Linked DNA regions of Homo sapiens. The protein of the gene in region 2 purifies or fractionates together with the protein of the main gene of each other region. This does not show direct contact. Each region holds a gene or a part of one and is shown on either strand. Other genes may lie near its edges.

What was found.
Region 1: the proteins of CDS1 (region 2) and NSDHL purify together in Homo sapiens (affinity purification with mass spectrometry; one large-scale study listed by BioGRID and IntAct). This does not show direct contact.
Region 3: the proteins of CDS1 (region 2) and ALDH3A2 purify together in Homo sapiens (affinity purification with mass spectrometry; one large-scale study listed by BioGRID and IntAct). This does not show direct contact.

The regions. Positions count from the first base shown.
Region 1 is NC_000023.11:152,848,030-152,851,685, forward strand, and holds part of NSDHL (sterol-4-alpha-carboxylate 3-dehydrogenase, decarboxylating), read left to right. Parts: intron 1-2,235; coding exon 2,236-2,394; intron 2,395-3,656. UniProt on the Homo sapiens protein: Catalyzes the NAD(P)(+)-dependent oxidative decarboxylation of the C4 methyl groups of 4-alpha-carboxysterols in post-squalene cholesterol biosynthesis. Also plays a role in the regulation of the endocytic trafficking of EGFR.
Region 2 is NC_000004.12:84,586,122-84,589,777, reverse strand, and holds part of CDS1 (phosphatidate cytidylyltransferase 1), read right to left. Parts: intron 1-3,656. UniProt on the Homo sapiens protein: Catalyzes the conversion of phosphatidic acid (PA) to CDP-diacylglycerol (CDP-DAG), an essential intermediate in the synthesis of phosphatidylglycerol, cardiolipin and phosphatidylinositol.
Region 3 is NC_000017.11:19,672,693-19,675,521, reverse strand, and holds part of ALDH3A2 (aldehyde dehydrogenase family 3 member A2), read right to left. Parts: intron 2,372-2,829; coding exon of another isoform or gene 2,288-2,371; exon of another isoform or gene 2,247-2,287; intron 1-2,246.

The DNA.
Region 1 (3,656 bases), on a different chromosome or scaffold from region 2:
TTTTTTGTATTTTTAGTAGAGACGGGATTTCACCATGTTGGCCAGGCTGGTCTCGAACCCCTGACCTCAGGTGATCTACCCACCTTGGCCTCCCAAAATGCTGGGATTACAGGCATGAGCCACCGTGCCTGGCCCCTATTCTTAACACTGTCTCCAAGAGGTTGATCTTATAACTCACCTCAGTAACCCATTATGGAGTCTTGCTGTTTCCAGTCTTGAGTTTTATACTTGATTGTTAGTACATGTTCATTCTTGTCCACTGTGGCTGTGAGAAGTAAAAAGTGGTCATGAAAAGTTTCATGTGATCTCCTGTAATCACACAGCATTATAGGTATGATTATCACACATTTGACTTCCCTGGGGTAAAGGCCAGTTTGATTCCCATCACTACAAGGGTCTCCAGGGAACAGCCATTGGCCTACTCATCCCAAACATTATTGATAGAACATTTCAATATCATAAAATAATCCACGTCACATTGTCCAAGAGTAGCGTACTGATTAGTCACAATTAAAATCGTGAAATGAAATCACACTGGACTAACAGCAAGGTTGTTTTTTGAAGAGATTAGCAACCTTTTGAAACACCTGTAACTAGAGATGCCAAATGAAATAAACAAGGCAGTCTGAAATCTTTCAGGATGCTTTAGTAACATATCTAGTTCTGACTGTCTTTGGGCTTAGCCAGACTTTTAGTAAACTGCAGAAATCCAGGTTGGGAAACAGGCAGCTCAGAGTTATTCTAAATAGCTACAGTTTGCCTGTACAGCTGACTTGGGAGGAGGGGAGAAGAAAGGGATTGCTAGAAAAGGGATTGATGTGAGTTTTGTATTTAATTTGGCTATGACTTGAGGAAATATACATCTCAGTCCAGGTGCAAATCATGTAACCTGGTATGATTACATGTGTTTAGGAATAATCAGAATAAAGCCTAGAAAAGAACAGGTTGGGAAGTTAGTTTTGGGTGGTAGAAGAATGGTGAGGCTGATTTTGTTAGTAGATTGCACATGGACAGATGAAGGTAAAGTACAGTGCCAGCTCCAGCTGGGCCTGGTGGAATCCAGTATGAGTGCTGTTTCAGATGGGACACCCCAACTGGGAGGGAGGTGGATCTAGAGAGGATGTCTGGCCCTGGCATCCCTTGAGTCTCTTGCATAGCTCAATTGTGTTGATGTTTAAGGAATAAGTAGGGAGATTTGTTTGTTTTTTAAATCTAGAACATAATTTCTTTAAGATCTTTCATTTCCACAAACCCAAGTTGGATTTACTGTATATGAGCTAAGGAAATTGGAGGTTGTCATCTTAAGGAGGCCCAGATACAGTTTTAGAAAGACCCTAGGGAGGAGGGATATCACAGGTCCTCCTCACAGACACCCATAGCCAGCTTGTCTGGTGTGCAGCAGCCACAGTTTGGCATCAACATCCTGAAATGAGGGTATTTAAGTGCCTGCATGTGCTACTGTGTCCTTTCATTATGCCCAGTCACCAGAGTTGGAATTACCCAAGGAATCGTGTGTGTTGTGGAGGCTGAGACATAAACACCATGGCTCTCCCCATTTCTTCAACTTCCTTGTAGTTCGGAGGAGGGAAAGCAGAGCCCTGGGCTCATCCATCCTCACTGCAGCCCCACCAGGAGATCCCATCAAGGCGGTCTTAGATTTCTAGGCTGAGGCAAGAAGGGGTTGGGCGATGAGCCCAGAGCCACACAGCCCAGCCCTGTTGTGGCCAGAGAGGGAAAGGGACTGACTTTGTCCTGCAAGTATGGAGACTGCTTTCTTCTTTCTGTTGTTTTCAGTGCAAGCTATCAGCTACCAAATGGCTGCCGTTTTGTTTTGTTTTGTTTTGTCCTTAGAGAAGCGCCCAGGGATCAGCTATCGGGAACAAGAAGGTATCACTGTTTTTTGGGGTATTTTTTAGATTGTCCAGTTTTGGTCATAGGTGGTTTGATTTCCTTTCACTGAATACAAAGCATGGATCTTGTCATCAAACCCAACCAAAGTCAATCTCAGTGTCATTCGCTATCTCTCTTCCCTCCTTACTGATCCCAGGAGAGAAGGTTAGGGTTGCACTAGTGATGGAACACCAGGATGATATAAAGCTTCCAACTTGGCTCAAGAAGAGTTCCAAACAAACAAGTATATCTGCCATTGCAGTGGCTCATGATATGTAAGTCTGGACTCTGTAGCTTCCAGTCCTCACTACCCTGGTCTTCCCCACCGTTCCTCTCTTTCCACAGGCCAAGAGATGCACAGTGATCGGTGGCTCTGGATTCCTGGGGCAGCACATGGTGGAGCAGTTGCTGGCAAGAGGATATGCTGTCAATGTATTTGATATCCAGCAAGGGTTTGATAATCCCCAGGTGCGGTTCTTTCTGGGTGACCTCTGCAGCCGACAGGTAATGGACCATGCAGCCTTGCTGATTTCCCACGAGCCCACGAAGGGAAACCACGATACTTCCCTTGCTCAGAAGCCAGCCAATTTGTTTGAAAAACAATTGTTTCATTGTGAAAATTTTCAAAGTTATAGGAAAGAACACCACATTCTTACTGCTTAGAATGAATAACCATCATCTCTGTCACAGATACTCAGCTGTGTCCTGGTAGCACAAAAGCAGCCATGGTCAGCACTTAAATGAACAAATGGCTGTGGCTGTATGCCAGTGAAACTTGACTTCAAAAGCCGTCCATGGGCTGTATTGTTCCAACTGCAAAACAAGTGTGTGCTGGGCCACAGGGTCTTGATTTTTTAATTGAGATATAATTCATGTACCACAAATTTCACATTTTTAAAGTGTGCAATTCAGTGATTTTCAGTACATCCACAAAGCTGTGCAACTGTCTCCCATGATCTAACTCCAGAATATTTGTATTACCCCAAAATGAAATCTTGTAGCCATCCCCTCTCTTCCCCTCCCAGCCCCTGGCCGCCACTCATCTACTTCCCATCTATGGATTGGCCTCTTCTGGACATTTCATATAAATGGAATCATGTAATATTTGTACCTCTGTGCCTGACTTTTTTCACTTAGCATGATGTTTTCAAGCTTCATCCATGTTGTACAGGTATGAATATCTTGAATTTTATTAGATGGTGCCAAATGGCTCAGCAAAGCTGCTATGTCAATTTTACCTCCATATCCACAATGTGGCACAAGCCCCATTGCTTCACATCTTTGCCAACACTGGGCATAACTAGACTTTTTGGTGTTGCCATTCTGAGAAGTATGAAGTGGTGCTTCACTGATGTTCAGAGTCACATGTCCTCCCTGACCAAGTAACCAGCCACTCTGCCACTGGGTGATCGGCTTTCAGGCTTCCTCCTGTGTGAAATGTTTGTCTGTGTCCTTTGCCCCTTTGTCTTTGGGGTTACCTTTGCTTCCTTGTTGATCTAGTTGGGATGCCAATCCTGTGCCCGTTGTACTTATTATGGATGGCTTCCCTCAGCCTGTCACTGGGCCCTTATTCTTGGCTTTGGTGTCATTCGCTATATGGTTTGTTGATGAAATATTAAGGCCATTGCTTCCGCTGCAAAGTTACGGTTGTTTTCTCTCCCGTGCTGCCCACACCTCCAGGCCTGGAGATGGGGTAGACATCTTTCATGCTCATCATTGCTGCCTCCGAACCGTTCTCCCTCATGCTGCTCTAAGCCTCTCCAGCT
Region 2 (3,656 bases):
AAATACGTTACAACTTGCCTCTCCCCCTCTGAAATACTACCAAGGCTCTGTGGAAGTGTTCCTCACTGCAGTAAGCTAAAAACCCAGCTCTGTCTTACCACCTGGCTGGGTTGCCGATATTTTGGAAGCCAGCATTTTAAAAAAATGTTATTAAATGAAATGAATATGCTGTGCATGATAAAAGCTGAATCATGGAAAATTATTTAGGTGGTAATACTGACTGATAATTTATCAACAATTAGGGAGTATCAGCCCAAATGGTAGTCCAGAAATCTAGATCTAAACATTAGTATTTTATTAATGGCCTAGATCTAGATGAAAAACTATAGAAAATGTTCATTACACTTACAGGTGACATCAGCACAACCTGTAGTGAAGTGTACCAAAATGAAGAAGTAATTTACAAAAACACAATAAGGCTTTTACAATAACAAAATAAACTAGACTAAATGCAGTGTTGAATCTCGGATTGTATCCCAGGGCAGTAAATGGATAGTGGAACAACCAGTGAATTTCTGAATAGTATCTACAGTCTAAAATGATATTATAGCTATGTTAATTTCTTAAGTTTTGACCGATGTACCACGGTTATGCAAGATACAAACCTTACGGGAAAGTCGGTGAAAAGTACATAGAAATCTTTGTAATGCTTCTGTAAATAAAACCAACCACCTTTACAAAAACTGTAACAGTGAGAAAATCATAACAGTGAAAAAAAATCTGACCTAACCAACTCTATCTTGCCTTTAACCTTCAAGCTGCCCATGGTCATTCCCAAGTGAGAACCAAGCTAACTTTGGAAGAATTTAGTTTACAGGTTAAATGATAACAGCTCTTCCCTAAACTAAACTGCCTTTATAAAACTAATAAAAGGTCACAAGTTTAGGATTATGAGAGGGGACTGAATTTTGTTGTGATTACATGTAAACAATTACCAGCCACTGGTCTGGAGATCACAAGATTTGCAACTTCTCCAATTACTTCTACACATAATATCACTATTAAAGAAGCTAAGATTGGCCTTTTAAAAGATAGACCACTTTCAGATTTTTATATTTCTGATGACTGGATAACTCCTCCCAAACCAGCAACTCCTGTGGCCCCCCCATCCAGAAATGGACTCAGCATACAAGGACCATTTTCCATACCCCTGCAATTGCCTCCCCAACCAATCAGCAGCACCCATTCTCTAACCCCCTGCACACCAAACTATCTTTTAAAAAGTCTAGCCTCCAAATTTTTAGGGAGGTTAATGTGAGTAATAATAAAACCCTGGCCGCCTGTTTAGCCGGCTCTGTGTGCATTAAACTCTTTTTCTCTATTGCAATTCTCCCGTGTTGATAAACCAGTTCTATCTGGGCAGCAAGAAAGAAGAACCTGTGGGGTGGTTACATAAATCAAAGTTGTTCCAAAATTAAAAGTTTATTTGAAAATAATAATGTATTTATGAAAGAAGCTGCACACATCTCAAATGGAGGAGAGACGTTAACTGATCTCTGGATTGTTTTCTCCTCAACTTCACAAACCAAAATCCCTAAGTAGCAGCCCCATGCACAAACACACAGGGATCTTACCTGAAAGCACACTATTCCACGTGTGCTCCCCTTGACTGGCCACAGCCTCAATGTGCACCCTCTTTTCTCCCACTTCAGGGTCTAGCAAGTGAAGGAAATCAGAATATTTCACCCCAAATTATACTTCTTTGACATATTTTGAGATGGCTGTTCAGAGGGCCTGCAAACAAACAGCCCTGCAAAGCTGTCTTTTGTGAGGTAGATTTGTGTCTGTAGAGAAAATCTGCATTGATGCAACCTGGCCTTCTCTGAAGGTTCTCTCTTGTCTGGATCTAGGAAAGACTAACTGAGAGTCTGACACTTTTAAAGGTCTGAAAGAAATATTCACCATCTATTCTCTCTGAGGGCTCCTCCCTATGAGGTTTCATCTACATGACAGGACCACCTTTGCCTCAAGATGGTATATAAGCTTCTGAGCCTCTTGGGGTTCAGGTAATCACTCTGTCTCCCTCCTCCCACCCCACACGTTAATAAACTTGTATGCCATTTCTCCGATTAATCTACCTGTTGTCAGTTTTTTCTGGCAAGTCTTCAGAGGGCAGAGGGGAAGTTCTCCCTTGGTCTCTACATAAGTCATGTCTTAGCTCTTTCTGTTTCAATACTCATTCCCACTCAACCCATTAGATCTTCACCAGCCCACTTCCCTGCCGACCTGAATCTGTGGTCATCCACTTCAATCTTGGCTTCACTGACTCTCTAATTCCCTACATCCTGGACCTCTGGCACTCCCCAGGCCTAAATCACTCCCATTGCTTTTCTTATTCTCAGCTATTAAATGGGGATATTCCTAACACACAGTCACACAACACTGAACGTGACTGGAACACATCTGAACTGTCATTTTTGGGAAGTGTGATAGGAAATGACCAAAAGGTAACTATTATAAAACTATACAGAATTATTAAACTCAGTGAAGATTCAACTGAATACAAATTTATTGTTTAAAATTTAATTGTATATATACCAAATTATATATAAATATATACAAATACAAATATATATGAATTGAGTTAAACCAAGTTGTTTCTAAGATCCCTTGAAGCTCATTGGTTCTGAGTTCCTACTTTACTAACTGAAGGCATCCAACATTTGATCTTCTCCTTTCTGCTTTTCAAAATGTTCCTGTATCCACTCTTCATTCCGTCTTTCTTTTCTTAAGGAAAAGACATGCATCCCTCTTTTCTTTCCTTGGATATCCCAATAATCCATAGTCTCTACCCCATGTTTGCTTTCTTTTTCCTAGGGCCTACCCATTGTCTTCAACATCTTTACTCATTTGACTTTCATACAAATATATATCTCCCCTCCTCTGAAAAGAAAAATCTTCATTAATCCTCCTGTCTCTCTAGTTGCCATCCTGTATTCCTTTCACTGCCACTTTATAACAATAACTACCAACATTTCACCTCTCAATTTCCTCAACCTAAACTTGCTTCTACTTAGATCTTTTGCTAAACTCCACGTTCTATCTCAGCCCTTATTCCTAAGTACTACTGATGATGTCCTCTAAGCCAGGGGTCCCCAACCCCCAGGCCACAGACCAGTACCGGCCTGTTAGGAACTGGGCCTGTTGGGAACCCGGCTGCAGAGCAGGTGAGTGGTCTGCGAGTGAAGCTTCCTCTGTATTTACAGCCACACCCCATCACTCGCATTACCACCGAGCGCTGCCTCCTGTCAGATCAACAGCAGCATTAGATCCTCACAGGAGCTTGAACCCTGTTGTGAACTGCACATGCGAGGGATCTAGGCTGCATGTTCCTTATGAGAATCTAAGGCCTGATGATCTGTCACTGTCTCCCATCACCCCCAGGTGGGACTGTATAGTTGCAGGATAACAAGCTCAGGGCTCCCATGGATTTTATATTATGGTGAGTTGTATAATTATTTCATTATATATTACAATGTAATAATAATAGAAATAAAGTGCACAATAAATGTAATGTACCTGAATCATCCTGAAACCATCCCCCCAACCCATCCGTGGAAAAAAGTGTCTTCCACAAAACTGATCCCTGGTGCCAAAAAATTTGGGGACCACTGCTCTAAGCAATGCCTCCTCCTTTTGCTCTCAGGACCTTCATT
Region 3 (2,829 bases), on a different chromosome or scaffold from region 2:
GCTTTAAAAACCTACCCACAACCAGCCTTGCAACACAAGCTCAGCACTGGGACTCAGACACCTCCTGTCTGAAGAGACTCTACATGCATTGTACAAAAAAGGACTACATATCCCTAGGAAGCCTAGGAAGCACGGTTTAGGCCAAAGGATTATGCCCTTCCTCAAAAAACAACAATAACAATAAGAGTAAGACAACGTGATAATGAAGGCTATATTCTGTCCACTGTCAACTAGCTAATGTCAGAGTAGAGACAGAAGATGAGAGTACTAACTTATTATCCTAGCATTTTCAGTAGGAAGCTGAAGTCTCTACATGGAATTCAAAAACTGGTATACAATTTTGTTTCTAAAATTCAAAAGTAGTACTGAATTTAATCCTTCCTATTGAAGACTGAGGAAGGGCTGCTGCAATCTCAAGGTTCAAATGTCATATTTAGTTGTCAAAGGCCTAATGAAATTTATCAACATTAACCTCTTATGTTTCTCGACCTTTTAAAACCCACATCTCCCACAATGCCTTCTGTAGCTTATAAGCTTTATTGGAACTTTACTTTGTGTACAATACTTCTGCTCTAAATCCCTTCTAATTCTAGTAAGGTAATTAATAAAATAAAATCCAAGAGTGTAACAAAATAAGGAAACTATTAAGTACATAAAAGCCATTTCAGAAAAATGTAATTACAATAAATAGACTATTCAGGTAAATATACAGTACAGATTCAAAGTCATTTATTTTAAATAAAAGGTAATTTGATAAAAAGAGGATTAAAAGCTCAGAAAGGAGCAGAAAAGCAGCAAAGTGGAAAAGAAAACCAAATCTCTACCTAGTTCCAGATTGAATCCAAAGAAATATTAACAACTATTAGTAATGAGAATTGAGCGGAAGGGTTGAAAGTGGCCTGGGGAATCACTGACACCTACTCCCTCACCCTGTAGATGAGCAAGCTGAGGCCCAAGAAAGAGCTCAGAAAAGGCCTTGCCCAAGTTCATTGAGCCAGGAATCAAACCACATTTTTTTGTTTCTGCTAAAGGTTTTATATATTGCTGCTTCTTTTATATATTGCTGCTTCTCTAGACCCTCACAGAGAAACATGCCTGCCAAACCCTTTGGGAACTCGAACCTGCCTGGCACACTGCACTGCACCTGAGGGAGGCTTCTTGGGGGTTTGGTAAGATTGGAGAATGCAGACTCAGCCTGGGCCTCCGTATTTTCCATGAGGCTAAAATATTCTATCCTACCAAGATGCATTATCAAACTGAGGAACCGAGGTCTTGGGAAAAGAACAAAAGAGACAGATATTGACCAGAGACCCAAGTAAGCTTCCGACCACACCTCCAGCCTCAGGAAGGCAAAGAAAGTAGCCCCTAAATTGTATACTACACCTTGATTTCACGACATTTGCTGCCATGAATTCCAAAGTCAAACCTTTTTTTAAAAATGAAAACAAATCAAAACTACTTAGTGATTTAAAAAACATATTCTTAAATTATGACATAAAGAGTTCAGTGCCTAGATGGTGACAAGTCTGAATTAGTCAGCTGGCACCTCCCCCAGGAGAGCTGAGTAGAAGGGGAAGAGAAATGAGGCTCACACTCAGCTGCCCTTTTCCAAGAAATGATGTATGCTTCACCTGGACGCAGCTAAGCCATTGCCTCTGCACACTTCTCTTAGATTCCTAGCAAGTCACTTCACCCTTTTAAAATTGTGGATAAGTGGAGTTTTAACACCCTGATACTCTGGGCCCAGGTCCAAAATGTCTAGAGATAAGTAAGTTAAACATTCTTTTTTCTTTCTTTTTTTTTGGAGACGGAGTCTTGCTCTGTCACCCAGGGTGGAGTGCAGTGGCACAATCTTGGCTCACTGCAACCTCTGCCTCCCGGGTTAAAGCAATTCTCCTGCCTCAGCCTCCCTAGTAGCTGGGACTACAGTCACGTACCACCACACCCAGCTAACGTTTGTATTTTTAGTAGAGATGGGGTTTCACCATGTTGGCCAGGCTGTTCTCGAACTCCGGAACTCAGGCAATCCACCTGCCTTGGCCTCCCAAAGTGCTAGGATTACAGGCGTGAGCCACTGCGCCCGGCCCATTCTTTTTTCAATAACCCTTAAGCCTCCAACTGTAGCAAAAAAAAAACAAAAATAAAAACAAAAACAAAAACAAAAACAAAAACAAACCAAAAAACCCTTGAAAACATACCCCAACTTGGCCCACCTTACATATAGAAAGAAAACAAAAAGTTCCTACCTCACTCTTAACAGACAGGGCTGGGTTTTGAAATCTGGTGTTCATCTCTGCTTACTGGACCAACGCAGTCTGTGAACTACCAGAAAAATCAACAGGGCCTTTCTCCTCAGCACAGCTTGGTATTTCTGAGAAAACCCAAATGATTTCAAATGCAACTGGTATCTCCAATTCCACTAAGGCTGGGATACTGTAAGATGAGCCAAACCCCTTTCAAATTTTTGTTGTTGTTGTTGTTGAGATGGAGTCTCGCTCTATTGCCCAGGCTGGAGTGCAGTGGCATGATCTTGGCTCACTGCAACCTCCACCTCCCGGGTTCAAGTGATTCTCCTCCCTCAGCCTCCCGAGTAGCTGGGACTACAGGTGCGTGCCACCATGCCTGGCTAATTTTTGTATTTTTAGTAGAGACAGGGTTTCACCATATTGGTCAGGCTGGTCTTGAACTCCTGACCTCGTGATTCCCCTGCCTCAGCCTCCCGAAGTGCTAGGATTACAGGTGTGAGCCACTGCGCCGGCCCCCTTTCAAATTTTAAACAAAACATAAACACAACTATTACCATTGCCTTTTCCAAGCCCATTCTTCACT